Linked DNA regions of Homo sapiens. The protein of the gene in region 3 interacts with the protein of the main gene of each other region in a pairwise test. Each region holds a gene or a part of one and is shown on either strand. Other genes may lie near its edges.

What was found.
Region 1: the proteins of ELOVL5 (region 3) and SLC39A9 interact in binary tests that used the Homo sapiens proteins (3 or more experiments, as listed by UniProt).
Region 2: the proteins of ELOVL5 (region 3) and HMOX2 interact in binary tests that used the Homo sapiens proteins (3 or more experiments, as listed by UniProt).
Region 4: the proteins of ELOVL5 (region 3) and SYNJ2BP interact in binary tests that used the Homo sapiens proteins (3 or more experiments, as listed by UniProt).

The regions. Positions count from the first base shown.
Region 1 is NC_000014.9:69,456,950-69,463,345, forward strand, and holds the end of SLC39A9 (zinc transporter ZIP9), read left to right. Parts: intron 1-1,413; coding exon 1,414-1,644; 3' UTR 1,645-4,747; coding exon of another isoform or gene 4,748-4,753; 3' UTR 4,754-5,441; downstream 5,442-6,396. UniProt on the Homo sapiens protein: Transports zinc ions across cell and organelle membranes into the cytoplasm and regulates intracellular zinc homeostasis. Participates in the zinc ions efflux out of the secretory compartments.
Region 2 is NC_000016.10:4,479,106-4,487,302, reverse strand, and holds part of HMOX2 (heme oxygenase 2), read right to left. Parts: intron 8,040-8,197; exon of another isoform or gene 7,742-8,039; intron 5,540-7,741; exon of another isoform or gene 5,424-5,539; intron 3,667-5,423; exon of another isoform or gene 3,549-3,666; intron 1-3,548.
Region 3 is NC_000006.12:53,268,055-53,276,251, reverse strand, and holds part of ELOVL5 (very long chain fatty acid elongase 5), read left to right. Parts: coding exon 1-73; intron 74-990; coding exon 991-1,162; intron 1,163-2,907; coding exon 2,908-3,032; intron 3,033-5,524; coding exon 5,525-5,659; intron 5,660-6,981; coding exon 6,982-7,125; coding exon of another isoform or gene 7,126-7,139; 3' UTR 7,140-8,197. UniProt on the Homo sapiens protein: Catalyzes the first and rate-limiting reaction of the four reactions that constitute the long-chain fatty acids elongation cycle.
Region 4 is NC_000014.9:70,413,637-70,422,603, forward strand, and holds the start of SYNJ2BP (synaptojanin-2-binding protein), read right to left. Parts: upstream 3,455-8,967; 5' UTR 3,328-3,454; coding exon 3,264-3,327; intron 1-3,263. Other genes in the region: SYNJ2BP-COX16 protein, read right to left, coding at 3,264-3,327. UniProt on the Homo sapiens protein: Regulates endocytosis of activin type 2 receptor kinases through the Ral/RALBP1-dependent pathway and may be involved in suppression of activin-induced signal transduction.

The DNA.
Region 1 (6,396 bases), on a different chromosome or scaffold from region 3:
GTATGTTGTTCCCTTTAACAGATTACTCTATCACTTCAGTAATCAGTGTCAGTTTTTTAACCTTTTGACAGGAAGGTGCTGATAATTCTGGAGACATGGAGTTACTTGCTGCATCTATGGGATGTCCTTTTCTTAAAATTTTAATTAGTTGTCTTAGTCCATAGGTCTACTTTTTTAACAGAAAAGGTTGAAATTAGTTTTATAAAGATTAGCTTATGAGATATACATATATATACACACACACACACACACACACATTTTTTTTTTCCTTTGAGATGGAATCTTGCCTGTCACCCAGGCTGGAGTACAATGGCGCAATCTTGGCTCACTGCAACCTCTGCCTCCCAGGTTCAGACGATTCTCCTGCCCCAGCTTCCGGAGTAGCTGGGATTACAGGCGCCCGCCACCATGCCCGGCTAATTTTTGTATTTTTAGTAGAGACAGGGTTTCACCATGTTGGCCAGGCTGGTCTCGAACTCCTGACCTCGTGATCCGCCCACCTTGGCCTCCCAAAGTGCTGGGATTACAGGCATGAGCCACCACGCCCGGCTGCTTAAGAGATATTTCTAGGCTCTATGAGGTCAACTACTGCATCTTGATTACCACTGTATCTCAAGCACCTGGCCCAGAGCCTGGTGCATAGATGATGCTTGTTAAATATTAGTAGAATAAATAAATTTATGTCTGAAATTTAATATCTGCAATAATATATTGTTGATTCTATCTCAAGAATAATACAAGCCAAACCTGTTGAACCAGCACTTAAAGTTCGTTTTAAAAAGCAATTGTGAACCAGGAGCAGTGGCGCATACCTGTAGTCCCAGCTACTTGGGAAGCTGAGACAGGAGGATTGCTTGAGCCCAGGAGTTCCAGGCTGTAGTGTGTTATGATTGTGCCTGTGAATAGCCACTCAACTCCAGCCTGGGCAACATAGCGAGACCTCATCTCTAAAGACAGATACAGTCAATGAATGGATGGACAGAATGATGGAACTGTGGTGAATATAGTTTAATAATAGTGTGTGGTACATATCAAAATTGCTAAGAGTAAATTTCAGATGTTCTCACCACAAAATATGATAAATATTTGAGATGACAGATGTTAGTTTTATTTAATTAGTCCACATTTTATTCATGAATCATAATGTCACTTTATACCCTATAAATATATATAATTATAAATTGTTGATTTACAATAAATTTTTTAAAAAATCAATTGCGTACATCACTGATATTCTTAAACCCTTATTTGGAAGCTTCCCATGAATAACTTAAAGTTGCTGTGTTCTCTAGATGTCCCCAGTGTCCTAGACAGCACCAGTTAAGAACAGTGAGTGTTTTTTAACTGGGACTTCTTCCTGACCCTGAATTTTACTTGACTTAGTTTTTCCTCTTTCTCTCTTCTAATTCACAGAGCAGTAAAGAAGCCCTTTCAGAGGTGAACGCCACGGGAGTGGCCATGCTTTTCTCTGCCGGGACATTTCTTTATGTTGCCACAGTACATGTCCTCCCTGAGGTGGGCGGAATAGGGCACAGCCACAAGCCCGATGCCACGGGAGGGAGAGGCCTCAGCCGCCTGGAAGTGGCAGCCCTGGTTCTGGGTTGCCTCATCCCTCTCATCCTGTCAGTAGGACACCAGCATTAAATGTTCAAGGTCCAGCCTTGGTCCAGGGCCGTTTGCCATCCAGTGAGAACAGCCGGCACGTGACAGCTACTCACTTCCTCAGTCTCTTGTCTCACCTTGCGCATCTCTACATGTATTCCTAGAGTCCAGAGGGGAGGTGAGGTTAAAACCTGAGTAATGGAAAAGCTTTTAGAGTAGAAACACATTTACGTTGCAGTTAGCTATAGACATCCCATTGTGTTATCTTTTAAAAGGCCCTTGACATTTTGCGTTTTAATATTTCTCTTAACCCTATTCTCAGGGAAGATGGAATTTAGTTTTAAGGAAAAGAGGAGAACTTCATACTCACAATGAAATAGTGATTATGAAAATACAGTGTTCTGTAATTAAGCTATGTCTCTTTCTTCTTAGTTTAGAGGCTCTGCTACTTTATCCATTGATTTTTAACATGGTTCCCACCATGTAAGACTGGTGCTTTAGCATCTATGCCACATGCGTTGATGGAAGGTCATAGCACCCACTCACTTAGATGCTAAAGGTGATTCTAGTTAATCTGGGATTAGGGTCAGGAAAATGATAGCAAGACACATTGAAAGCTCTCTTTATACTCAAAAGAGATATCCATTGAAAAGGGATGTCTAGAGGGATTTAAACAGCTCCTTTGGCACGTGCCTCTCTGAATCCAGCCTGCCATTCCATCAAATGGAGCAGGAGAGGTGGGAGGAGCTTCTAAAGAGGTGACTGGTATTTTGTAGCATTCCTTGTCAAGTTCTCCTTTGCAGAATACCTGTCTCCACATTCCTAGAGAGGAGCCAAGTTCTAGTAGTTTCAGTTCTAGGCTTTCCTTCAAGAACAGTCAGATCACAAAGTGTCTTTGGAAATTAAGGGATATTAAATTTTAAGTGATTTTTGGATGGTTATTGATATCTTTGTAGTAGCTTTTTTTAAAAGACTACCAAAATGTATGGTTGTCCTTTTTTTTTGTTTTTTTTTTTTTTAATTATTTCTCTTAGCAGATCAGCAATCCCTCTAGGGACCTAAATACTAGGTCAGCTTTGGCGACACTGTGTCTTCTCACATAACCACCTGTAGCAAGATGGATCATAAATGAGAAGTGTTTGCCTATTGATTTAAAGCTTATTGGAATCATGTCTCTTGTCTCTTCGTCTTTTCTTTGCTTTTCTTCTAACTTTTCCCTCTAGCCTCTCCTCGCCACAATTTGCTGCTTACTGCTGGTGTTAATATTTGTGTGGGATGAATTCTTATCAGGACAACCACTTCTCGAACTGTAATAATGAAGATAATAATATCTTTATTCTTTATCCCCCTTCAAAGAAATTACCTTTGTGTCAAATGCCGCTTTGTTGAGCCCTTAAAATACCACCTCCTCATGTGTAAATTGACACAATCACTAATCTGGTAATTTAAACAATTGAGATAGCAAAAGTGTTTAACAGACTAGGATAATTTTTTTTTCATATTTGCCAAAATTTTTGTAAACCCTGTCTTGTCAAATAAGTGTATAATATTGTATTATTAATTTATTTTTACTTTCTATACCATTTCAAAACACATTACACTAAGGGGGAACCAAGACTAGTTTCTTCAGGGCAGTGGACGTAGTAGTTTGTAAAAACGTTTTCTATGACGCATAAGCTAGCATGCCTATGATTTATTTCCTTCATGAATTTGTCACTGGATCAGCAGCTGTGGAAATAAAGCTTGTGAGCCCTCTGCTGGCCACAGTGAGGAAAGTAGCACAAATAGGATACAGTTGTATGTAGTCATTGGCAACAATTGCATACAATTTTACTACCAAGAGAAGGTATAGTATGGAAAGTCCAAATGACTTCCTTGATTGGATGTTAACAGCTGACTGGTGTGAGACTTGAGGTTTCATCTAGTCCTTCAAAACTATATGGTTGCCTAGATTCTCTCTGGAAACTGACTTTGTCAAATAAATAGCAGATTGTAGTGTCTGGTTTGGTTTGGACAGTAGTGCTTTCTATCATATTGTTGTGTGCAATGGTAATTTGTTCTACTGGCCAAAGCCTCTTTCAGCAGTGCCTTGCCATCATGCTTAAAAGTTTGGCTAGTATATCTTGCTGGATGGAGCCTTGAACTCCGGCAAGGATTGAACCATCTGACTTCCAAATTTGCCTTCCCCTCTGGACCTCACTATTAACAAGCAAACCTTTCAGGGCCCTCTTAGCTCTCAGAAGCTATGTATGGGCTTTCCCAGATTTTAAAGCTGCTGCCTCGAGAACTACTCATTTCTCTCCTGGTCAGCAGACAGAAATAGCCATACTAATCTCATAGGGCTCAAATGCATCTTCAGGCAGCAGGGAACCAAGCAGCGTGGCACAGGCCTTCTTGACTGGAGGAAGAGCTTGCTGGCATGGTGGGCAGTATTCCAGGAGAGGCCATGTCCGTGTTCACTTCTTGGCACATTTCAGTTCCGTTTTCCTCTTGTTTAAAACTGCCTCTTTAGATGTGGATGCCTTAATGCTGTAACACATTTGAAAACATTGGCAATACTTAAGTTGCTGCCATGATTACAGATGGAATTATTGGCTACCAAAGAGACGCAATTGATGATGAGAAGCATGATTCTTGCTTCCATATAACCAAAGTTAATCTTAATTGCAATTTGACTCCGTTTCCTTGGTAGGGATAGACTTTCTTCAGATTCCAAGTGCTCTCTTAAATGGCAAATTAAGTTAAAGAATACTACTGCTCCATTCCCCTCACTTATTCTCCAGTTAATTGCTTGTCAGTTCCATTTCAAGAAAGCAGTGATGTTCCAGGTTTGATTCAGTTTTCCTGTGCACACTATTGCCAAATTTTTTTTTAGCAAAGATTCTGCACTGGAACGTAGACAGTTGGAAACAGTACTACCTACCTAGAGGTTATGTGTTTTCTCTTTCTCCCCGCTTTCACCTCTTTCTTTCCCAATTCAAAACAGCCAAGTGAGCCCTGTTCTGGTATTTTGAATCATTAGAGAAAAGAAAGGGAGTGGCTGTTTTGAGTTGTCCTTTCTTTGCAGAAAGGAGAAAATGTGATTGTGTTTTTTTTTTACCAGCCTACTTCTAAGTGTCACTGCCTGGTTTTTCTCTTTTTCAAGGATTAGAACTAAGAGGACACACCAGCATCGGAGTGTATTAAGCCCCTGAAACACATGGTAGCTAGGGACTGAACACAGGAACCGTATGACAGCAGCACAAACCCCCAAAGGATGTTCCTGCCTTGTGGGCCCCTGAGCCCCTTGGGAGACTGAGAATCATGACCAGATTCATCCAGAACTGCTGCAGTGTTAAGTGAAAATCCTCTGTAGTTGTTCTGCAGAGGAACCTTCCTTCCATTAGAAAATTTCTGCTCAATACAGAATGGTCCACATCACCCAAAGTGCACTGTTGGAGATGCTGTGAAATTAAAACCTCTTTGTACCTGAGACATCTAGATTCACCTCAGGAGGCCTGAAGGAAATGTGTAACTTGTGGGAAAGAACTAGACAACCATTTAGGAATTCTCTAGATATACTCAGCCTAACCCAGTGGCTTAACACAAGGAGATTGGCTTTGATCTTTTTTTCTTGTGGCATCTTCCAGCAAGTTAGAAGTCTCATGGGATAAGACTGCAGTTCCCCTGGTTCAATAGCTGGAACAGTGATTTTAAATGTCCCTTTTTCTGGATCCCTTGTAAACATGAAATCATTCCATGGATGGCTGCCTTATAATTTTGTCTCTTTCCACTTTAATTGTGAATGGTTAAAAAAATGCTGTTTTCTGATATTAAATTTTTATTAGTGCATACCTTAATCTGAGTGGCTCATTACTTATCCTTTTGGCAGTTTGTTTGATGACCAGAATTGACCTGTATTTGAACATCAGAAAAGAGAATGAAAAGTTGTGATGGATGGTAGAAAGATGTACCTACCACAGGCACATCCTTTAGGGAAGGGAGGGAGAAAGGAGAGAGGGGAAATTAAGGACTTGATAGACCAATCTGCCCTGAAAGACACAAATGCATTGATAATTGTTTTTGCCTTGCTGTTGTTAGCAAATATTATTTACGAAGGTAGCTCTCTCTACTCTCAGAAAAGAGAAAGAGGCAACAGATCCAAACCACAGTGGATTCATTTCATAGGGCAGAGTTGTTATATGAGTAGATAGATGCTATGAACAACTGACCCTGGAAATTAAAGAGATTTGATTAGAAACGTGACGTGTGAATTTGATAAATGTTTTTCTCCCTCTGTGGACTTATGGTTAGTCATTAGATTTCATTAAATACTACTGGCCCACTTTGTGCTGGTTTTCTATATGTATAGTTACATGTATAGCTAGTTACAAAGATTGTGCTCAGGGCAGGCATGGTGGCTCACGCTTGTAATCCCAGCACTTTGGGAGGCCGAAGTGGGTAGATCACCTGAGGTCAGGAGTTCGAGACCACCCTGGCCAACATGGTGAAACCCCGTCTCTACTCAAAATAGAAAAATTAGCCAGGTGTGGTAGGGGGGTACCTGTAAATCCCAGCTACTCGGGAGGCTTCCCTGAGATCAAAACACACACACACCTGGGCTTAGCCAAAATAGCCACCAATCCTTTTCTGTTTGGTGTCATTTTTATTTTATTTTTTCCTGCTCACATGATCTGTTTTTTGTTTGTTTGTTTTTTGAGACAGAGTCTTGCTCTGTAGCCCAGGCTGGAGTGCAGTGGTGTGATCTCAGCTCACTGCAAGCTCCACCTCCCAGGTTCACGCCATTCTTCTGCC
Region 2 (8,197 bases), on a different chromosome or scaffold from region 3:
GGATTACAGGCCTGAGCCACTGTGCCCAACTTCTTTTTTTTTTTTGAGACAGGGTCTTGCTGTGTTGCTCAAGCTGAAGTGCACTGGGTCAATCAGAGCTCACTGCAGCCTCAACTCCTGGGCTCAGGTGATACTTCCAACTTAGCCTCTCGAGCAGCTGAGACTACAGGCATTCACTACCATGTCTAGCTAATTTTAAAAATTTTTTTGTAGAGACAGGGTCTCACTATGTTGCCCAGGTTGGTCTCGAACTCCTGGGCTCAAGCAATCTTTCTTTGGCCTCCCAAAGTACTGGGATTACAGGCGTGGGCCACCACGCCCAGCCTCAAGCCCTTTTTCAAACAAAACCCTACACAAATGGCCAATACAAAAAGGAAATAAGTGAGCTTCCATACTTAAAATGAGGAGGGAAAGAGAAAGGGGGCCAAAAGGGACTGAGCTCAGCTCCTCATTCCCCTCAGGACCTTGAGCTTGGCCTAGTTTGCTCAGCTGTGGTCTAGGAGACATAAGATATTCAATTAAACATTTGCTGGCTACCATTTCCCACTACCTGTGCTAAGTGACCAGTGGCTCTGGGCACGGTCTCTTATCTTAGGCCTGTATGTCCAAATCAACAGTGGGAAGCTGGGCCTGGATTAGCCACTGTTCCCAGACCTGACCTGCCCAGAGTTTTCTGGCAGCTAGGCCAGAGCTCCCTCTACTCTTTCACATATCATTTCCAGTTGCCCACTAGTTCCTTGAAAAGTTCGTGACCTTCCAAAAAACCATGTAGTTTCTGTGTCTTCAACTCACCTCATCCCCAGCATTGGTACTGAGCTCTAACCCTGTATTAGGGACAGACATACTCTAATCAGCTGTCCTTGACAGACCTTGAGCTTCAAACACTTCTGCCTCACCCACACTAGCCAGTTAAGTTGCTGTGGCCTCAGCAGTCCTCTCCTAGGAACCAGATTAGACCACTGCCTACACATGGGGACACGCTGTCCTTTGGACAAGTACTCAGGCAAGTCCCTTGACAGTTGGTGTTTGGTAAAAGGCTGTTTGTTTACAAAGGAATGTCCTAGGGTTTCTGTCTTTAATCTACTCAAATACTTCCTTTTTTGAACACAATTTGTGTTTGAAGACACAAATTAAGAGATGTGTACTTTTGAAGATGGGAAGAAAGGGTACTTGTCAGAACAATCCTTATCCTTTTTTGGTTGCAAATCCCTTTCAGAATCAGAGCAAGGCTTCAGATTCTCTCTCCAGGACAATCGTATGGTTTAAAAATGTTGCCTGTGGCCAGGCATGGTGGCTCAAGCCTGTAATCCCAGCACTTTGGGAGGCTGAGGTGGGTGGATCACCTGAGGTCAGGAGTTCGAGACCAGCCTGGCCAACATGGTGAAACCTTGTCTCTACTAAAAATGCAAAAATTAGCCGGGCGTGGTGGCAGGTGCCTTAATCCCAGCTACCTGGGAGGCAGAGGTAGGAGAATTGTTTGAACCCGGGAGGCAGAGGTTGCAGTGAGCCGAGATCAAGCCATTGCACTCAAGCCTGGGGGACAAGAGCGAGACTTCTCTCAAAAACAAAAACAAAAATAAAAACAAAAACAAAAACAAAAAAATCAATCCCTGTTCTAAAAGGAGTCTATCAGTGACATTCTCTTTTTATGGGTAAAGTTTTCAGTAAGACCCTGAGTGCTCTAAGAAGGGTTTCTTCTTTCTTTGGCCTCCTTCCTTCTCTTCCCTTCCTCCTCTGTCCTAATGGGTTCAGTACAAGTTCTCCCATTTTCTCCATTTCTCCACTCTTTAACTTCCCTGGCCTCTCAAAACTCTCATAAACCTTACAAAGTGATTTTACTGTTTTGTGTCTTCCCACAGTTACTACCAGCTCCTAGTAAACAAAGACTATGCTTGGTTTGTTGTTGTATTTGCACATCCCCTCAGTGCCAATACTCTGCATACCTTAGAAGCTCAATACAGTACAGTCAGCCCTCCATATCCATGGGCTCTGCATCAGTGGATTCAACCAACCTCAGATTAAAAATATTCAGAAAAAGGCCTGACATGGTGGCTCACCCCTGTAATCATAGCACTTTGGGACGTGGAGGTGGGTGAATCACTTAAGGTCAGGAGTTCGAGATCAGCCTGGCCAACATGGTGAAACCCGGAATCTGCTAAAAATATAAAAATTAGCCGGGGGTTGTGGCAGGCACCTGTAATCCCAGCTACTCGGGAGGCTAAGGCAAGAGAATCGCTTGAACCCAGGAGGTGGAGGTTGCAGTGAGCCAAGACTGCGCCACTGCACTCCAGCCTCGGTGACAGAGTGAGATGCCGTCTCAATCAACCAATCAATCTTCAGGGAAAAAAAAAACAACAGATGGCTACATATGTACTACACATGTACAGATTTTTTTTCTTGTCATGATTACCTAAACGATACAGTATAACAACTATTTACATAGCACTGTATTGGGTATTATAAATACAGATGATTTAAAGAATACAGAAGATATGCATAGGTTATATGCAAATTCTATACACCATTTTATATAAGAAACTTAAGCTGGGCACAGTGGCTCATGCCTGTAATACCAGCACTTTGGGAGCCCGCGGCAGGCGGCTCACCTGAAGTCAGGAGTTCGAGACCAGCCTGGCCAATATGGTGAAACCTCACCTCTACTAAAAATACAAAAATCAGCCAGGCGTGGTGGTGCACACCTGTAATCCCAGCTACTCGGGAGGCTGAGGCAGGAGAATCATTTGAACCCGGGAGGTGGAGATTGCAGTGAGCCGAAATCGTACCACTGCACTCCAGCCTGGGTGACAGTGCAAGACTCCGTCTCAAAAAAAAAAAAAAAAAAGAAAAGAAAAGAAACTTGAGCATCCTGGATCTTGGTACCCTTGAGGGGTCCTGGAACTAATCTCCACAGATACTGAGGGATAACTATATATACTTCTCAAATGGCCTCATACTACTGTTTCTTGATCCTTCTACCTTTAGGCATTTGGACTTGAATGTGGTGCCTCCTTTAAAATTTGGGCATATGAGGCCGGGTGCAGTGGCTCACGCCTGTAATCCCAGCACTTTGGGAGGCCAAGGTGGGTGGATCATGAGGTCAGGAGATTGAGACCATCTTGGCTAACACGGTGAAACCCCGTCTCTACTAAAAATACAAAAAATTAGCCGGGCATGGTGGCGGGAGCCTGTAGTCCCAGCTACTCGGGAGGCTGAGGCAGGAGAATGGCGTGAACCTGGGAGGCGGAGCCTGCAGTGAGCCGAGATCGCACCACTGCACTCCAGCCTGGGCGACAGAGCAAGACTCCGTCTCAAAAAAAAAAAAAAAAAAATTTTTGGGCATATGCACGGGTGTGATACTGTAATTTAGAAGAAGATACAGAGATAAATTTGAGGCTGGATGCAGCGGCTCATGCCTGTAATCCCAGCACTTCAGGAGGCTGAGGTGGGCAGATCACTTGAGGTCAGGAGTTCAAGACCAGCCTGGTTAATATGGTGAAACCCCGTCTCTACTAAAAATACAAAAATTAACCAGGTATAGTGGCGCACACCTGTAGTCCCACCTACTCGGGAGGCTGAGGCAGGAGAATCGCTTGAATCCGGGAAGCGGAGGTTGCAGTGAGCCGAGATAGCGCCATTGCACTCCAGCCTGGGTGTCGCAGCAAGACTCTGTCTCAAAACACAAACAAACAAAAAGATTTATAGATATATTTGATCTGCACCCTAGGTTCCTGGCACAGAGCTCCTAAAACCTTTGTAGATGGGGGCACTAGGAGAATCCTTCATTCTGATATTGGTCTTTAACCTCAGTTCCTGACACAGAGCTCCTAAAACTTTTGTAATTTCCTAAATCCCTTGGAATTTCCTGGGTAATAGGAGCATCTTTTGTTGTAAGTAAGTAACTCTTGGTGGGCTCCTAGATGGGGGCTGATTGCCTGGGGAACCAACCATGTGATTAGAGGGTGGGAACTTTCAGCCCTACCCCCTTAACCTCAGGGGACGGGAGAAGGTCTAAAGGTTGAGTTGATCACCAGTGGCCAATAACGTATTCAATTATGCCTTTGTAATGAAGCCTCCATAAACACACACACACACACACACACACACACACACACACACACACACACACACACACACACACACACCAGGGTTTGCATTAGCTTCAGGATAGCTGAATACACGAAAGTTCCAGAGAGGGCGTAGAAGCTTCATGCCTCTTCCTACATGCCTCACCCTATACATCTCTTCCATCTGGCTATTCATCTGTATCCTTTTTTTTTCTTCCAGTCTGTCGCCCAGGCTGGATGGAGTGCGGTGGCGTGATCTCATTTCACTGCAACATCTGCCCCCAGGGTCCAAGCGATTTTCCTGCCTCAGCCTCCCTAGTGGCTGGGACTACAGGCATGCACGACCACACCCGGCTAATTTTTTTGTATTTTTACTAGAAATGGGGTTTCACCACATTGGTCAGGCTGGTCTCAAACTCCTGACCTCAGGTGATCTGCCCTCCTTGGCCTCCCAAAGTGCTGGGATTACAGGCATGAACCAGCACGCCCAGCCATCTGTATCCTTCTTAATATCCTTTAGAGTAAATTGGTAAATGTAAGTAAAGTGTTTTCCTGAGTTCTGTGACCCACTCTAGCAGATTAATCAAACTCGAGGAGGGATTGTCAGAACTTTCGATTTATAGCTAGTAGGTCAGAAGTATAGGTGACAATTTACTACTTGTGACTAGTGCCTCAAGTTGGGACAGTTTTGTGGGACTGAGCCCTCAATTGGTGGGATCTGACGCTATCTCCAGATAGAGTATCAGAATTTAACTGACTTAGAGGACACCGCACCGGTGTGTCTACTAGAGAATTGCTTGGTGTATGGGGAAACAACTCCCATATATCTGGTATCAGAAGTGTTGTGTTGAGTGACTGTGGGAACAGAGTAGAAAAAAGACTTTGGGTTTTTTTGCCTTTCTCAAATAACCAGAAGAGCCACAAGCAAAGACAGAAAAGCATAACCTACAGCAGCTAGTTTCTCAGAACAGCATATTTTTCCCCTTCTGGGTCCACTTGCCTTTTTATAAACACAAAAAGTCTTACAGAGCAGGACAAATATGACACTGAACACAGACATTTGAAAATTTTGCTGAGATTGACAAATTCTCAAGTATATGGTAGAGGAATGGAGTTTTTTAAGTTATTTTCTAATTACTGGGATACCTGCTATTACCAAGCCAACCGAAGGCCTGACTTTCCCTCTGCCTTCCTACATAAAAAGAAGAGAGTAAAGGTTTAATGTCTTCTAGGTAGAAGTTAGATGACCACCCAGGCCACACTTCACCAAGTTTGCTTTTTCATCTGCCGTCAAACACTACTATCCACACTCAGCTTTGCTCATTTATTCCTTCCCTTCTCCCTCCTGCCCTCCTCCAGACTGCCACAGAGATAGTTCAAGGTGACAATGGCTCCTCTGCAGCAGCACATAGCAGTCTTGCCAGACACAACAGCAGATCAAGTAACTACTGAAGATGATGGCTACACTTGGACAGGTGACATTACATTATCATCAACAAACATTTATCACCCTCTTGAGTACTGTGACTACAAAGAAAGATAAGATCTTGCTCTGCACGTCAAGTACCTTTCAATCTAGAGAGAGAGTTAGGTGGAAAAATAAAAAGATAACATAAGGTGTACCATTCTATAAATATTAATTGTGCAATACAGACAACTGTGCTAAAGATAGAGCTTTATGTACCCGACTTTCCAGAACAATTCTGATTTCAAATACCCTGTTCCACCCAATTCTTTCAGTACACCTGTATGCTCAATGACAGGTGTTTCGCATAAAAATTATGATCATCACAGCTACTTATGAGGCCAGCCAGTCAACTAGATTAACTAAAATCAGGATGGCATTATAATGCCAGATTGTTTTATTTTTTTCTTTTTTTTTTTTTTTTTGAGACGGAGTCTCGCTCTGTCTCCCAGGCTGGAGCGCAGTGGCGCGATCTCTGCTTACTGCAAGCTCCGCCTCCCGGGTTCCCGCCATTCTCCTGCCTCAGCCTCCCGAGTAGCCGGGACTACAGGCGCCCGCCACCATGCCCGGCTAATTTTTTTTGTATTTTTTAGTAGAGACGGGGTTTCACCGTGTTAGCCAGCATGGTCTCGATCTCCTGACCTCGTGATCCGCCCGCCTCCGCCTCCCAAAGTGCTGGGATTACAGGTGCGAGCCACCGCGCCCGGACCAGATTGTTTTAATCACACTAGTACCTTCTTGCAGCCTCAGCACAGTGCTTTAATAGTAGGCCCTCTATCTCAGACATGAAAACATGAGCAAAAGCAAAAATACGAGGCCTGGCCGGGCGCGGTGGCTCACGCCTGTAATCCCAATGCTTTGGGAGGCCGAGGTAGGTGGATCACCTGACATCAGAAGTTTGAGACCAGCCTGACTAACATGGTGAAACCCCGTCTCTACTAAAAATACAAAAAATTAGCCAGGCGTGGTGGCAGACGCCTATAATCCCAGCTTCTCCAGAGGCTGAGGCAGGAGAATCGCTTAAACCTGGGAGGTGGAAGTTGCAGTGAACCAAGGTCACACCACTGCACTCCAGCCTGGGTGACAAGAGTGAAACTCTGTCTCAAAAAAAAAAAAAAAAAATAGTAGGCCCTTAGCCGGGCACGGTCGCTCCACCTCTAATTCTAATTGGGAGGCCAAAGTGGGTGGACCACTTGAGGTCAGGAGTTTGAGACCAGCCTGGCCAGCATGGTGAAACCCCGTCTCTACTAAAAATACAAAAATTAACTGGGTGTGGTGGCACACACCTGTAATCCCAGCTACTAGGGAGGCTGAGGAAGGAGAATCACTTGAACCCAGGAGGCAGAGGTTGCAGTGAGCCGAGACGGCGCCACTGCACTCCAGCCCTGGTGACAGAGCAAGACTCTAAGGAAAAAAAAAAAAAAAAGGCCGGGTGCTGTGGCTCACGCCTGTAATACTAGCACTTTGGGAGGCCAAGGAGGGTGGTTCGCTTGAGGTCAGGAGCTGGAGACCAGCGTGGCCAACATGGCGAAACCCCATCTCTACCAAAAGTACAAAAATTAGCCAGGCATGGTGGTGCATGCCTGTAGTCCCAGTTACTTGGAAGGCTGAGGCAGGAGAACTGCTTGAACCCCAGAGGCAGAGATTGCAGTGAGCTCAGATCAGATCACTGTACTCCAGCCTGGGTGAAAGAGCCAGACTCTGTTTCAAAAAAATAAAAAATAAAAAATAAAAAAGCCGGGCGCAGCGACTCATGCCTATAACCCCAGCACTTTGGGAGGCCAAGGTGGACGGATCACCTGAGGTCAGGAGTAGGAGACCAGCCCGGCCAACATAGTGAAACCTCATCTCTACTAAAAATACAAAAATTAGCCAGGCATGGTGGCATACGCCTGTAATCCCAGCTACTCAGGAGACTGAGGCTGGAGAATCGCTTGAACCCAGGAGGCGGAGGTTGCAGTGAGCTGAGATTGTGCCACCACACTCCAGCCTGGGTGACAGAGCAAGACTGTCTCAAAAAAAAAAAAAAAAAAAAAAAAAAAAAAAATAGAATAAGAAAAAGGCAGGCTGGGTACAAGATACTAGTCTGTTATGCCATTCTTCCCCACAGCCTTTTTAAAGTTACTGAGAACTATGACAGTAATTAGGCCTATAATACTCCTGGGAAGGAAACGAATCTATCTGTGAAACAAAAATTAATTTTTTCCCTAAGCTGAGTGAAGAGAATATCCACTTTGTTGGCTTCTGACATACACACTGACAGCACAGTTCACCAGACAACAATCACTCTTCTGGCGTCCCTTTCCCCAGGTATTCTATTCGCTTACTGCTCTATCTTCCCTGCCAGTCCACTCCCTCCTCTTTCCAGCCTGTGCCTTAGACAAGGACCCCAAACAAGGATCACCTGGGAAACTCCAAAAAACAGATTCCTAGTCATAATCCCAATTTTACCAAAAAAGAAGCGTTTGGAAACCCCTTAGATCGACAAGCAGCATCCAAAGACACCAAAAACTTAGGCTCATCAAGTATTAACTTCCTGCCTCAGCCTCCCAAGTAGCTGAGATTACAGGTATGTGCTAGCATCCTACTTATTGTTCACTCTGATAGAATTTTTTTTTCTTTGAGATGAAGTTTTGCTCTTGTCGCCCAGGCTGGAGTGCAATGGCAT
Region 3 (8,197 bases):
AACAGGAGTATGGGAAGGCAAATACAACTTCTTCTGTCAGGGCACACGCACCGCAGGAGAATCAGATATGAAGGTACTGTCTCTTTTTCAGAAACTTTATTATTATAAGTGTTGAGTTTTTAAAAATAAATTGTATAAAATACAAAATGGCCCATAACCTCACTGCCCAGGCAATCCCTGTTGATATTTTTAAAAGAATAAAAAAGGCAATATATACACATCAAATTAAAATTTGAATGTGAAAGGTATAAAATAAAACCTAAAGCATCCCCCTCTGTAAAAATAACTCCGGTTAACAATTGGCAGGAAAAATCACATGCAGTCAGTATGTTATATTTACACAATCAGGATCATAAGAGCAATGTCTTAAATTTTTAAAATCATTCATCCAAGTACTTTTTTCCGAGTAGTGGTGTTAAAAATAAAATCTGACTTCCACTCATGAGGTTTGTTTTAAATCACAGGCCAACAGTCGCAGCTCAGCATGGGCAGTCATCTCCTTAGAGCACTTGTTTGACATGTTTAATTGGGCAGAGACCTGACACTGCAGGTTCTGATTCCTTTTCTTCTGTGTCACTTATCAGGTCGGCTGCTCCATGTTAGTCCCTGAAATCAATAGCGTTTTTCAGATGGTTTTCCTTTGCTAATGGCTGTGCAGGCTGCTTCCAGAGGGAATAGGCAGACTTCAAGGTTTTGAACCTTGAGCCTCATGTTTTTGTTAGTCTCAAAGAGTGTCAGGGACCCTTTCAAAAATATTCCCTGTAGTCATTTCAAACCCCTCCAGCTGTCCCAACCCAATCATGTTCTTTGGTTAAAGGTACTTGGAGAGTGACCATAGCTCCCAGCCACTGATGGACATTAAGAGCTCTTGGGGCACTCGGGCTTCTCCGAGTTGACATCAGATTTTTGGATATTAGTGAAACATGTCAGAGGTGATATTCCAGAGAAGCCGTGAGGATAAGCCTTAAATCTTTGACCCTTTCCTCTTAGATTATCCGTGTCCTCTGGTGGTACTACTTCTCCAAACTCATAGAATTTATGGACACTTTCTTCTTCATCCTGCGCAAGAACAACCACCAGATCACGGTCCTGCACGTCTACCACCATGCCTCGATGCTGAACATCTGGTGGTTTGTGATGAACTGGGTCCCCTGCGGCCACTGTAAGTATTAGAGACGGGGACTTGGGGAACAGGTGTGAGCAGGGAGGAGAGTTGAAACTAAGGCTTTCAGAAAAGGTGCTGTTTCTGTAAATGTCTAGGTCAGGCTTTCAGCTTTGTGTTCAAGTTGCTTTTAATGATAGTTTATGTACCTATGCACACAAAACCCTTTTTTAGTTAAGTGAACTTTCTGTGCTGATTGGGTGAGATGAGGGAGATACCACTGGGGACATATTAAGGAATAGGTACAATATTCTCTGACTTAGAGGGCAACTTTCCAGGTTCTTTCTGGTCCTTCTGTATGGTGTGGAAGGTTTGAGACGGGCAGGTGAGGAAAATAGGATCACACTGTTGCATGAGTACCAGGGAGCAAGGCTCATTTTGAAATACAGCTTTAGCTGTCATGCATTAGGAAGTCTCCACATGTTCTAACAACCCTCATATTCCCTGAAGCATGGTGATCAAGGTGTCTTCTATAACGAGCACCAAAACTTGATATAAATTTTCTAAGGTTGTACTTGGTTTTTGGAAAGCTTGTAGTCCAAAGTTTCTTATAATTTTCAGAGATTGCCACCTTCAGATTCAGCCTGGGAGTTTTAGCAAATGTCTCAGTCAAAAGTCCCGTCATCCAAACACTGAAGAATTTAACTGAGAACCTATGGGTCTATTTATGGATATTTTTTTCTCTGGGATAGCACTGCCCTTGATTACCTGAGCCTGCTAAGATTCACAGTGTCATGGAATTCCAGAGCTAGGAAAAAAAAAAAGCTTTCCAAATACAGATCCTTTGGGTTTGGGAGGAAACTAAGACCACAGAAAGGTGGGTAGAGTTGGGGCTTTCTGCTCTTCCTCCCACTGTCAGAGCTCATGATGGTGGATTAACTGACCTAACTTTCTAATAGAAACAGCCCCTCCCTACATTTGAAGAGTGCTTTAAATTTTCAGAGAACTTTCAGGAGGACAGATTTAATCAGCTCCACTTGGGCCATGAGAAACTGAACCAGGGAATGGATGTGATGTGTCCAAAGTCAAAAGCCAGTTCCTATCATAGCCAGGAGTAGAAACTTCCCTAACACCAGGCTGTGCACCTGCAACTGCACAGGGAAAAGCCAGATGGCTTGGTTTGGTTGCTGACTGTTGGGGAGGAGGACAGAGTCTGGAAAAAGAACTAGTGGTCCTACTGAACATTGAAAATGATGTGATAAGATGGCTCTTTTATCTCTAAGGAGCTAGACTCTTGACTCTATTATTAATAAAAATGTATGACCTCAGCACTGCAGTCCTGGGAAATAATTAGAAGATGGCTTCAGAGACCTCTCCACACCCCAGCAAATGTATAGAAACAACCATTTTTGAGCATATTGCCCATCAGCTGTCTTCCACAGCCTTCAGAGAGCATATTTGGGCAGTTGTGCATGTAAAGAAAAACAGCTGTCTCTGAGAGTGGGTGGGCATCTGCAGCAAAGCCTGTAGGTGCTGGGATGGCGTCGTGGCTTCAGTGTCAGATGCCCCTCTAGCAGCTACAGCTGACCCCTGGGCTCGGAGCCTCCTGGTGGCTGCCTGCCCAAGTGGAAATTGAATTCTCATTACACATCCATGCATTGCTTGCTGTTGCAGTGTTTGTCAGCTCCGTTGGAAGTCATCTCTCTTTCTGATTCAAAAAGAATCTTGTATTTTTTTTTTTTTTACCACCTGTTCTGTTTAAAACACTAATACATTCTCCTTCCCAAATCCCTCTGTTCCTGCAGCTTATTTTGGTGCCACACTTAATAGCTTCATCCACGTCCTCATGTACTCTTACTATGGTTTGTCGTCAGTCCCTTCCATGCGTCCATACCTCTGGTGGAAGAAGTACATCACTCAGGGGCAGCTGGTGAGTGACTTGGCCTCTTTCCCCAGGACTTACTTCCTGGTGGATACAGACCTCTTCCTGGCTTTAGTGTTATGTAATAGCATCTAAGATGCCCCTTCTCCACCCTTTTTCATTTGATGTAATTAAATTCCTTGAAGTGGGTAGATTAGGGAATTTTCTTGTTTTGAACTGATAGTGAACTGTGACCATGGGCATACAGCTAGTTGAATTGTACAAAGAGGTCTAGAATCTAATTTGCCAACTTCAAGTTCAGCTCTTCTGAGTTTTTGCACATAAGCACATATGCATGTATGTGTGTATATGTGTGTGTGTTTTCTAATTATAGTCCAAAATCCAAAATGAAAATTGTATGTTTCCAGGGGTTTTAGAAGGAGCTGGAGAGTAGTATGGAGTCCAGGGTATGTGTAGCCCATTACTAGGCAGCAAGGATATTTGTTTGGCAGGTATGGATGACCCCTCAGCCCCCATGCAGTGGAGCACCTGTTGGTGAGGATGGCAGCTGTTTGCTTCAGTTAACAGCTCCTCCCCTGGTTTACTGCCAGGGCCAGGCCACTTCACCTGATACTTCTCACCATCCTTGATTAAGCCTTCTGCATTCATCAGTATATTATAGGTAACCTCTTTCTCTCCTCTCATGAATTCGTCTATGAACTAATTAATACTACTACTGCTCATATTAAACACTGACATTTCCTAAGTGTTTAGCACATGTTGGGTACTCATACTAAGTACATGATTTTACATAGATTGTTCCAGTAGCCTGATTTCATATTATTGTCCCCAAGCCAGGCACAGTGGCTCACGCCTGTAATCACAGCATTTTGGGAGGTCGAGGCAGGAGGATCACTTGAGGCCAGGAGTTTAAGACCAGCCTGGGGAACATAGTGAGGCCCTGTCTCTACCAAAAAGAAAAACACATATTATTGTCCCTATTTTATAGATGACACTGAGTCAATAGGCCAAAGCTAGCTGACTGAGGGGTGTGGACATTAAACCCTTTGCCCTGTCCTTGCATTATTAACACATTTTTCTAAACACACCAAGCTGATTCAGATCCCTTCAAGTCAATTATGATTTTTCAATATTTAAAAATAACAATCTGAAAAAAAAGTCTGAGAAAATCTTAGAGACTGAAGTGTTTGATGTTTCATTTTCACCTCTCTGCCAGCTGCTATATGGTCCTTGTTAATTTTTTCTCACCCACCTGTGAAAAAGGAAAATTGTTGATTAACCTCCTTGTTATACTTGAGGAGAAATGATGCAGAAATTGATTTATACCACAGTTTTGGGTCTGGCGGAAGCAGAATTTAAAAGAACAGACTGGCAAAGTTGGTCTCCCGTTAGGCTCTGTACTTTGAGGTGGAAGATTAAACCTACCCAGGTTGTCAGGATTTATTTTAAGCACCACTCCTAGTTATTCCTCAGTCTGCAGTACTAACCTTAAAAAAGAGAAGGCAAACAGCCAGGCACAGTGGGTCATGGCTTGGAGTCCCGGTCACTCGGGAGGCTGAGGTAGAAGGATCTCTTGAACCTGAGAGTTTGAGGCCACCCTGGGCAACATAGACCCTGTCTCAAAAATTAAAAACAAAAAACTCTACATAGAAACATTGGAGCTGCTAGAAATACAGTGTGCAGAGCCTAGCCCTTTTTTTGGGGGGAGGGGCAGGGGTTGAGCTGGAGTCTCGCTCTGTCACCAGGCTGGAGTGCAGTGGCGCGATCTCGGTTCGCTGCAACCTCTGCCTCCTGGGTTCAAGCAATTCTCCTATCTCAGCCTCCCAAGTAGCTGGGACTACCGGCGTGTGCCACCATACCCAGCTAATTTTTGTATTTTTAGTAGAGACAGGGTTTCACCATTTTGGCCAGGATGGTGTTGATCTCTTGACCTTGTGATCCGCCAGCCTCGGCCTCCCAAAGTGCTGGAATTACAGGCGTGAGCCACCACGCCCGGCCTGAGCCTAGCCCTTTTTAAAACATCTTTCCACCATTTCTCTAACCAGTTCACATGCGTTTCAAGGTTTATTCATCAAAATTAATCAATGCACTTAGTGTTGTTTGCCAGTAAAGGTTTAAATCTACTCATCAGCCTTCACCAAACCAGAAGCGTCCATGGATAAGGAGTTGGAAGGATGTCCAGCCAGGTGGCACATCCTGCAGTGATGTTATCAGTGCCCTTTCAACATACACACTTGCTCTTCCTTCTCAAAAAATAAAAACAAAAAGTCTTGGATGTCTCTATAGTGTATCCTTGAAATTTGGAGAAGGTAGTTTAAATAGCTTGGAGGGCAGAGGAAGAATATATATAAGACAAACACACCTAGAGTTTAGGATAAGTATAGTGTATGTGTTGTGTTCATGAAGTGACTGCTGTACCTGCAGCAAGGGTAGTAAGTGTTAATTCAGAAATTTAGGTGATGCTGGTTAAAAAGTCTGCCTGGTGTGGGGCCTCGTCCATGCACTGTCCCTGTTCAGCTGCATCCCCTCTGTTCCCCTAGCTTCAGTTTGTGCTGACAATCATCCAGACCAGCTGCGGGGTCATCTGGCCGTGCACATTCCCTCTTGGTTGGTTGTATTTCCAGATTGGATACATGATTTCCCTGATTGCTCTCTTCACAAACTTCTACATTCAGGTAAATCTCACCCTTCTCTGGGACTTGGAATCTGGGGCCTTTACCAACAAAGGCCCTCATCTATTTACTTAATGGGCATGTGGAGCCCTTGCTGGGTGACAGGCTCTGGCCTCTAATGGAGTCACTATGACAAGAGCAGCCCCTGCCTCTGGGGGGCTCACAGCTCACTGGAAGACACTAGAATCCTGTTCTAGAGCCTGGGTGAGGAAGTCTTGGGATTCCCCTGGGAAATGGAAAACTGTGCAGCAGGACCCTATGTTGCTTCCCTCTGACCTGCAGCAGAGACGTGAGAGGTGATTTCAATCAGAAATCTCTCAGTTCACTACCCTGAACGTCATGGCCAAATGAAATTTCAGAAGAGATTTTTATCACAGTCCTCAGATATGGAGATCTGCTTTTTTGTCCCAGCTTTCTTATACATTCAGTCTTCAGGTGTGAGGATTCGGTTCATTCCTAAGCATATGATGTGGTGATGTAGGTCTTTGCTCACAGAAAGATCCATTTAGGGCAGATAATTTCCAGTGGAGCCTGACCACGTTGCAGCCACTGCTGATTCTCCTGCCATGCGTCACCCCCCAGATGACATGTGTCCTGCCTTTGTTGCCAGTGCCTGGTAGCCATAAGGCCTGCTGATCTGGGCAAAACACGGAGGTCAGGAGCAAGGGCAGAGGCTGCAAGTCCCGAGGCTCAGACATTTGTCCTTTCTTCTTCTGTGCCCACAAGCACCTGTGTGTGGCATGTTGAGTTTCAGTGGAAGTCATATACTTCTGGGCTTCATAGTTTATGGCTGCACTGTGGGACATACACCAGCTACAAGGAAGGTGAAAGGATAGGACCCGATGAAGCTGAAATCACATTTATTCTAACTACTTATAGCAGCATAGCACTTTGTTCATGAAGGCTGAGATAGTCGCCGAGGCAGTGAGGAACTTTTGAAGACGAACAAGGGATGTGGGTGTCAAGAGAGCTGCTGCCAGGTGGGAAAGACCAATTTGGCCACATAACCCCTGTCATCTGCCATCCAGATACTAAAAGGCAAAGCAAAGTGTAAATTGAATTTTCTATGTGACATTTTAAATAGTATTTCTGTTGCAGCCTGTGATTCAGTTAACTTACCTCAGGCTAAGCCTCAAAAAAAAAAAGGAAGAATGATTGAAACCAGTGACAAAAGATTTAGTCAATGAGGACTTGACCTCAGGAGTTTCTCCTTGATAAGATTTGATCTTGAAACTAGGCCTAGTGTTAGGGATGCAATTCTCAGTAAAGTTCCCTATAAAGAAAACTGTGGTCATTTGGTTCTCATCTGCCCTTACACATTTTAGACCTACAACAAGAAAGGGGCCTCCCGAAGGAAAGACCACCTGAAGGACCACCAGAATGGGTCCATGGCTGCTGTGAATGGACACACCAACAGCTTTTCACCCCTGGAAAACAATGTGAAGCCAAGGAAGCTGCGGAAGGATTGAAGTCAAAGAATTGAAACCCTCCAAACCACGTCATCTGATTGTAAGCACAATATGAGTTGTGCCCCAATGCTCGTTAACAGCTGCTGTAACTAGTCTGGCCTACAATAGTGTGATTCATGTAGGACTTCTTTCATCAATTCAAAACCCCTAGAAAACGTATACAGATTATATAAGTAGGGATAAGATTTCTAACATTTCTGGGCTCTCTGACCCCTGCGCTAGACTGTGGAAAGGGAGTATTATTATAGTATACAACACTGCTGTTGCCTTATTAGTTATAACATGATAGGTGCTGAATTGTGATTCACAATTTAAAAACACTGTAATCCAAACTTTTTTTTTTAACTGTAGATCATGCATGTGATTGTAAATGTAAATTTGTACAATGTTGTTATGGTAGAGAAACACACATGCCTTAAAATTTAAAAAGCAGGGCCCAAAGCTTATTAGTTTAAATTAGGGTATGTTTCAAGTTTGTATTAATTTGTAATAGCTCTGTTTAGAAAAAATCAAAGACCATGATTTATGAAACTAATGTGACATAATTTCCAGTGACTTGTTGATGTGAAATCAGACACGGCACCTTCAGTTTTGTACTATTGGCTTTGAATCAAGCAGGCTCAAATCTAGTGGAACAGTCAGTTTAACTTTTTAACAGATCTTATTTTTTTATTTTGAGTGCCACTATTAATGTAAAAAGGGGGGGGCTCTACAGCAGTCGTGATGAAACTTAAATATATATTCTTTGTCCTCGAGATTTTAGGAAGGGTGTAGGGTGAGTAGGCCATTTTTAATTTCTGAAGTGCTAAGTGTTTTTATACAGCAAACAAAAAGTCAATTTTGCTTTCCACCAGTGCGAGAGAGGATGTATACTTTTCAAGAGAGATGATTGCCTATTTACCGTTTGACAGAGTCCCGTAGATGAGCAATGGGGAACTGGTTGCCAGGGTCTAAATTTGGATTGATTTATGCACTGTTATCTGTTTTGACACAGATTTCCTTGTAAAATGTGCCTAGTTTACCAAAATTAACAAAGGGGGGGAAAGGACCTTAGAACTTTTTAAGGTAAAAT
Region 4 (8,967 bases), on a different chromosome or scaffold from region 3:
AAAAAAAAGAAGAACAAAAGAAAGTAATTGTACTTTTGCACCAACCTAATACATGTCAAGCTTCTTTTGCCTCTTCACTCTGTTGTCATAATTTCCCCAAGATTTCATTACTTCCCTTGCAGTAAGCAGATCAGTCAGGAACAGGTTCGACTGCCTTATAATATGGGCCCAAACACTGGAAATATCCACAATTCTTGTCCCTGACAGAACACAAAGGGGGAATGGTACACATGTTCTCGGATCTGATTAAACATCAGGTTCCTGAGTACACAGCTATACAAACACAAAGAGTGGGCAATGCTGCCTACAAAAGAAATGCATACTTAGAGGATTTTCATATTTCTTCCATAGATAGAAAGATCCTTATGGGACCATCAAAATTATGTGGAAGTTTCTAGTGGTGATTAGTTTCTAGTGGTATTTTGAGACAGTCTCCTCCCTATATATCTTCATGATGATACCATGAAGAAAAGCTGAATTAGACCCTGAGAAGAAGAGTATCACATACTAGGAAACCAGTTCTGGTAAGTGATTAACATGAACTTGAAACCTTTCTTTGTTAACTGAACCAACCAAATTTCAAATGACTGTTTTCACCCAAGTTCATTCCTAAACTTGAGGCTTTACTCTCCCAGTAAGTTCACTGACTTATATAATTAATACATGGAAATGCTTATGAAAATTTAGGAAGCCACTGAGTGAATAAATACATTCATTTGTAATAAATATGTGATACAGAAATCAAACCATTTTTGGGTGAAATATATTAGCTAGATATAATTATTCCCTTTAATTAGTCCTTGAAGCTTGTCCGAATGCCAATGTTTTGGGAAAATACTAACACTAGGAAATTTATGACTACAAATGCCAAAAAAGATGAAGTGATATTATACTGAATTTTAAAAAGATTTCATCTTTAGAACAAGAGATAATATCAGGGTCCTGCTCTGCTTTAGACAGGAGATCTGAAAATACTTTGGATGCCAGAGCAAAAGGACTATGTCAAAGTACATTAAATTCTTAAGCAAAAGGCAAGAATCAAATCTCAAACATCTCAAGAGGTAGTAAAATAACCGAAGATATTTAGGATAAAGAAGAAAGAGGCAAAACAGGAGCAGAACAACTAGAGCCTTTAAATAAATACTTGCACAGCAATCAGAAAAGGAACTAGCATTGTTTTAATTGGTCCTAAGAGAACAAGTTATCAATGGATGAAAAGTACAAAAAAACAGATTTTGATTGAAAAGTAACTTTCTATGTTAGCCTCAAAAGTCAATAAATATTAACAGTGAGTGAAGGATACATTTATATAAAATAGCAAAAAAATGAATCCAAGAAACTTGGGCATACCAAATGAGCCTTTGACAAAAGTTTAGGCGCACATATGGAGCATGACACTAATCCATTAAGATTAGTGATAGGCCAGGCATGATGGCTCATGACTGTAATCCCAGCACTTTGGAAGGCCAAGGCAGGAGGACTGCCTGAGTTCAGGAGTTCAAGACCAGCCTGGGCAACAAAGTGAGACCTCGTCTCTAAAAAAAAAAAAATATTAATAATGGTATTAGTGATGAGTTATATTCCGATAAGTAAAACCAACTTCCAATTTTTAATAATAGAAAGGAAGGCAGGGCACAGTGGCTCACACCCGTAATCCCAGCACTTTGGGAGGCAGAGGTGGGTGGATCATTTAAACTCAGGAGTTTAAATGAGACCAGCCTGGGCAACGTAGTGAAACATCGTCTCTACCAAAAATACAAAAAAATTAGCCGGGCGTGGCAGTGCACACCCATGGTATCGGTTACTCAGGAGGCTGAGGTGGGAGGATTGCTTGAGCCTAAGAGGGAGAGGCTGCAGTGGGCTGAGATCGTGCCACTGCACTCTAGCCTGGGCAACAGAGTGAGACCCTGTCTCAAAAAAAAAAAAAAGAAAAGAAAAAGAAAGAAAGAAAAGAAAAGAAGACACAAAGTATGGATAATTCTGAAAGTTATATTTTATAAAGAATAATCTATCCATGATTAAGCTACTGCAGAACTGCAGATGAGAAAAGGTGATGGACTGTCCTAGGTAGTGGCAAGGGAAACAGGAGTGAAAGAATTTCAGGAACATTTCAGAGATGGAGCTCAGAGTACTTGATGATTTATTAGAGACTCTTGGAATACAGTATTAGTAGGATTTACTGTGTCAGTTTAGCTATTTATCCATTAACAGTAACAATAGTAGGAAACACATACTGTTTACCATAGGTCAAGCAATGTTGTAAACATTTTACATGGATTAACTCATTTCATTCTCACAACACTATGAAGTATATTTATAACCATCCCCATTTTAGAGATGATAAACTAAGGCTTACATCAGTTAAGTTAGCCAATAAGTATCAAGAATCAGTAAGAGGTTAGATACAAGATTTAGACCCAGATACTGTAATTCCAAAGCTAAAGAGCTCTTAATTGATCAACTAAATAGTTGTAAAGGAAAGTAAACAAAGTCGAAAGCAGGCAGAATGTAGTAATGTCAAGAGCCCGGTTTAATGAAGAGCCACAGTGGGGGAAGAGGATAGCAGTTTGGCTGCTCAAAATCACATGAGGTGTTCATAAAAAATAAATAAATAAATAAAATAAATCTGTATTAAATCCAAATCCCTGCAGATGGGAGATAAGATTTAACTTTTTATTTTCTTTTTTTTTTTTTTTTTTAAAGCCCTGGGTAATTTTGTGGCGGAACCAAGTTTGGGAACCTGTGTAATAAAAGATTTCTAAGGGCTCTTCCTGCTTTAACATTCTAGTTGACATTGTAAATGAAGTTCCCAGAAATCAAAGGAGCGAGGGAGGGATCCTAGCTGCAGGAAAACGGCTATGCATTCAGAGTCCACACCGTTTATGCTCCCATTTTACTAAACGGTCCCTCATAGGGGGAGGGATAGAACAGGCAACGGAAAGAAGGATGTGGTATCCACGATAAGCAGGCTAAAAAAGCAGGCTTTTAAAAAGGCTTTTCTAGCACGATTTGCACAAAGAACCCCTTCTTGACTATATATATTTGTGTTCATCCAACTGGATTTTGAGGTGGATTCCTCAGACCCGTATCTGGCTAATGATGGATTTCAATATATTTTCTCTAAGCACCCCGAAGCGTTGCACGAAACCTCTAGGTTGTGGCCTGCCCGCCCCGAGGCCAGGTGAATCCGGCTCAGCAGCAGAGGTGTCTGCAATTACACCCTCTAATCCCCTACTGTCAGATATGACCCTTTCCGCACATACCTGAGGGCCCTCTGGTAAGATTGATCTCTTCCTCAGTGACCAAATAATCCACTCTTCCGTTCATGTTTTACAGCTCGTCTGGCTTCCTACTTGGGTCAGCTGGAGTGCAGCACAGGTGAAGGTGAATCAATCTCGGCGCTGCGCCCACAGCACAGCGGTTTCGGTTTCAGCAGCCTCGAGACCCGGAAAAGGAAGCCCGAAGGACTCGGAGCACTGGGAATGCTGGGAATCGTGGTTCCTACCGCCAATGGATTGCAGTTTCTCACCGGTTCCCAAAGCCAAGCATGAGGTGAGCAAGGGGCAAGTTACCATTCTAATTTGCCATTGGAAGCAAGTGGGAAGGGGGTGGCTAGTAAAAGTAAGGGACCTAAATAAATTGATATTGTCGAGAAAAAAAATTTTAAAAAAATCTCCTGCCATCCTAGAAAATCTCCACAAATGTAGAAAAGAAAAAAAAGGTGTATTATTCTGTAAGCATCGAACCAGACCGGAATGGGTGTTACAGGCAATCCACTAATGAGATTGCAAAGAGAGACAAAAATCTCACATTTTATGTAGCCAAAGCACACGCATCTTCTCATGTAAGACGAGTTAACATGGTTTGGTATTCAATTTTTGGTAGTTCACCGTTGGAGTGGCCGCCTGTGTTGGTTAATTGCCTTTATCCAAAGGAAAAATAAAACGTTATCTCTGTGACAAACAGGTACTTACGGCTTGGAGCAAGGCGCTTCGGGTAACTCCCGCGAGCCTGGAACATAGGGGCACTGTCTACCTTGATACTTAAATTTCAAGGAGTTGGCTCCCGGGACCTGACGAAAACAATTCCTGGGTTTTATCTGACAAGAGGCTTATTTAGCTTTTAAAAAGATACACACACACACACACACTACACACGGATTATAATTACAATTTGCTCAAGAAAATGTTTTAAGAAAGGGGGGTGGGGGAATGTCTCATTCTTTTGGCAACTGGGAAAATTCAATCTTTTTAATGTTTTAACTCTTACAATAAGGTTAACGCATGGCTTAGGTATAACTTTAGGCCAGTCTTCCTGACTTTTGGAATGAGACATTCCAAACTGAACTTGAATGAAACTTCAGGGGTCAAAAACACAAAAGCCTAAAGAGCCAGGAAGGTGACAACCTTGTGAAGCAACCTGGAGTTAGACCACAGGGATTGGTGGGGATCTTAGAGGACTAGAAAGTGCAAGGCCAATGTAAAGACATTTAAATTTAGAGTAAAAAACCAAAGCAGCAGCTACTATGTTTACCAAACAGAAGGAGATAGGGGCAGATTCGGCAGGAAGACCTCTTATTTGCTCACTCTGAGAGAAGTTAAGATGGAATAGTGGAGGCTGAGCACAGTGGCTCACGCCTGTAATCCCAGCACTTTGGGAGGCCGAGGCGGGTGGATCACCTGAGGTCAGAAGTTCAAGACCAGCCTGGTCAACATGGTGAAACCCTGTCTCCACTAAATATACAAAAAATTAGCTCGGTGTGGTTGCAGGTACCTATAATCCCAGCTACTCGGGGGGCTGAGGCAGAAGAATCGCTTGAACCCGGGAGGCGGAGGTTGCAGTGAGCCGAGATTGCACCATTGCACTCCAGCCTGGGCAACAAGAGCGAAACTTTGTCTCAAAAAAAAAAGATGGGATAGTGGAAATAACACAGATTATGACTTACAACTTGGGCTCAAGTTTCCATTCCATTCCCTTAAACTTGTCTGTCTTTGAGCAAGGAATCCAACATCTCTGAACTCTGTTTCCCCATCTTAAAATGGGATTGATAGTAGCTCTTCATATGTTGGTTGGATGAGTGAATAAAATGATCATTATAAAAGGCAGAGAATGATAAATTAAAAAAATGTGTAATATAAATAAATGACATTGGGGGCTGGGCGGGGTGGCTCACACCTGTAATCCCAGCACTTTGGGAGGCCAAGGTGGGCAGATCACTTGAGGTCAGGAGTTCCAGAGCAGCCTGGCCAACATGGTGAAACCCCATCTCTACTAAAAATACAAAAAAATTAGCTGGGCGTGGTGGCGCAGGCCTGTAGTCCCAGCTACATGGGAGGCTGAGGCAGGAGAATCACTTGAACCCAGGAGGCGGAGGTTGCAGTGAGTGGAGATCGTGCCACTGCACTCTACGCTGGGTGACGGAGCAAGACTCCATCTCAAAAAATAAATAGATAAAATAAAATAAATGACATTGGAATGTCAAGAGAGAAAAGATCAAATAGAAATGGGGGGAAAATCAAGAAATCATCAATGAGGAGATTTGTAAGGAAAAAAACACAAGGTTTCTTTTAGACCACTGTGGGGACGGTGGTGGGGGAATCACCTCTCAGTACCTGGGAAAATTGTCCTTTTCATCTGAACACACAGCTTCAAAAGAAATACATAGGGCAGTGAAAGAAAAAAGTATCCTAAACAAGTTGAGGAAATGCTGGTAATAAGTAGAGTGAGAGATGGGATATGTAAATTGCCTTTATTCCCTAATAGAAGTATAGGAATAATGGTGTCAGAGGCTTTTGAACTGGAGCGACTCCATCTTGAATAGGGGCTGGGTAAAATAAGGCTGAGACCTACTGGGCTGCATCCCCAGGAAGTTAGGCATTCTAAGTCACAGGATGAGATAGGTCAGCACAAGGTACAGGTCACAAAGACCTTGCTGATAAAAGAATGTGGTAAAAAAGCCAGCCAAAACCCACTAAAATCAACGTGGTGATTAAAGTGACCTCTGGTCATCCTCACTGCTCATGATATGCTAATTATAATGCATTAGCATGCTAAAAGACACTCCTGCCAGCGCCATGACAGTTTACAAATGCCATGGCAACATCAGGAAGTTACCCTATATGGTCTGAAAAGGGAAGGAACCCTCAGTTCCAGGAATAGCCCACCAATTTCCCCTAAAACTCATGAATAATCCACCCCTTGTTTAGCATATAATCAAGAAAAAACCATAAAAATAGCCAACCAGCAGCCCTCGGGGCTGCTCTGCCTATGGAGCAGCCATTCTTTATTCCTTTACTTTCTTCATAAACTTGCTTTCACTTTACTCTATGGACTTGCCCCAAATTCTTTCTTGCACAAGGTTGAAGAACCCTCTGTTGGGGTCTGGATCAGGACCCCTTTCCAGTAACAATGGAAGAACAAGGAAGCTAGCTGGGCGTGGTGATATGCCTGTAGTCCCAGTTACTCTAGAGGCTGAGGCGGGAGGATCATTAGAGCTCAGGGGTTTGAGGCTGCAGTGAGGTGTGATTGAAGCACTGCACTCTAGCCTGGGTAACAGAGCAAGACCCCATCTCTACTAAAAAATAATAAAAGTAAATAAATTAAAAAAAAAAATGAGGGAGCTTTAATATGTAGGAAAGCAAATGACAGAGAAAATGAGATCCTACTCAGAGGAAACAATTGAGAAAAATTATGGAATCAGGCCGGGTGCAGTGGCTCACCCCTGGAGTGTAGACTTTACTTCGTGGTCCAAGATGCTTAAGATGGATTTTGGAACTTCAACCATCATATCTACATTCCAGGAAGGTAATGAAGGAAGGGCAAAGAAGACCTCCTGGAAATGTCATAGACTTCTTGTAATCTCAGGGATAGAAATGTGCCAACCATAAAAATCAAGGTTATTATTATTAACTGAAAGTGGGAGAATGGATATTGGGAGGCCACTGGCAGTCTCTGACACAAGAAGTGACACTTTCTGTCTGAACTAACCTTTCTGCTTATGACCTTGAGTTATGTAAAAAATGTAGAATGTAGTGGAAACTTCAATCTACCATTTACAAAATTAGTGGAAACCTTGCCTCACCTTAATCACACCTTGCTCTATTTTTGCACATTTCCTGTCATATATTCACTTTGTCTTTTTAATCTCTCTTGTCTGCTTCAGTCCCCTCCTACTTCAGTATTTTATTCTATCAGCCTCTTTGATGACCAACTCATGAATATGTTTGTATTTGGGACTTATCCACCTCTCCTTTGACATAGCATTTGTTCCAACTTTTTGCCCTTACCTATTTAGTTTCAAATTCCTGCATATTTTATTTTTTCTATGCTTCCTTAGGTGACAAAACTCTTTTGTGATTGACACACTTTTTTCTTTGTTGTATTATTATTACATTTAATCAGACGATATTAGTTTGTTAATGTTACTGTAACTAATACTACAGATTGTGTAATTTGAACAATGAAAATGTATTTTTTCACAGCTGTGGAGTCTGGAAGTCCAAGATCAGGGTGCAGGTAGAGTTGGTTTCCTCAGAGGCTTCTTTCCTTGGCTTGCAGATGGCCATATCTTCTACCTCTGTCTTCACATGGTCTTTCCTCTGTGTGCACACATGTCTGTTTCCAAATTTCCTCTTCTTATAAGGACATCGTTCATATTAGATTAGGGCCCACCGTAATGACCACATTTTAACTTACTTACCTCTTTAAAGACCTTTTCTCCAAATATGGTTACATTCTGAGGTACTTCAGCAGATGAATTTTGCAGGCATACAACACAGCCCATAACACAGATTACAGTGAAGTCACAGCCTTTGGCATTGCATATCTCTGCTCTGGCCCATTACTTGTTGATTTTAAAGTTTAGACCTGATAGCAGTATTATTGCTTTAATTTTCAAGTTCTTGCTGCAAGTTGCACTGCTGACCCCAGCTATTGATGACAGCAGATAGCCACAAGGCATTTACAATTATTTTATCTTCTATTGTCCTTTTTGATTGGTACTCTTTATTCTTCTGTATATATATGCTATCTTTATAAGAAGTCTAATTCAGACCCCTGGCTCTAATGCCATTAATATGCCAGCTGTCATGTCTCTTCACTGAGCTTCAGTCTTGTGTAACCCAGTTGCCTACCTAACATCTCAAAATTTAGATGCCTAGCAGGCATCTTAAATTATGATAAAATGAGAATTTCTAACCCTTATACCCCTAAACTGATACCTCTCTTAGCTGTTCCCCTTCCTTGAGTAACTCAGTTTACTCAGTTCATATGAATATCTTAAGAACAGCTTTTGATTCCATTCTTTCCCTTGCATTCTACATTCAACCCATCAAAAGTATAGCTGTTGCTATGTATGAAATACAGTCTATCTGACCATCTCTGATACTACCAGCTTATTACAAACCACCAGTATGTATTGCCTCTACTTCTACTGTTCTTCCTGAATGTTTTTTCTGCTGCTCACTCGATATCTCCCATCTATTCTTCCCTCAGCTGGAGCAATCTTACAAAAATGTAAATCAGATCATGTCATGCCCCAATCTAAATATTTCAGTCATTTCCATCTCATGTAGAAAAAAATCGATATCCTTAACATTGCCTCTAAGACCAGATAATCTGGCTTTTGTCAAGCTCTCTAACTCGTCTACTACCACAACCCCCTTCCCTCATTCATTACATCTACACTGAACTTTTTTCTGTTTCTCAAACAAATACATTTGGTTTAGTTTAGATCTTTGCATTTGCTGTGCCATCTGCCCCACGGCTTCTTGTTCACTGCTTTATCTCCAGTACCTATAAGAGTTGCCAACACAAACTTGGCTTTCTTTTTGTTTATTTTTTTAAATTATTTTTTGTAGCAATAGGGTCTTGCTGTATTGCCCAGGCTGATCTAAAACTCCTGGCCTCAGGCAATCCTCCTGCCTCAGCCCCTGCAAAGGATTGGGATTATGGGTATAAGCCATCGTG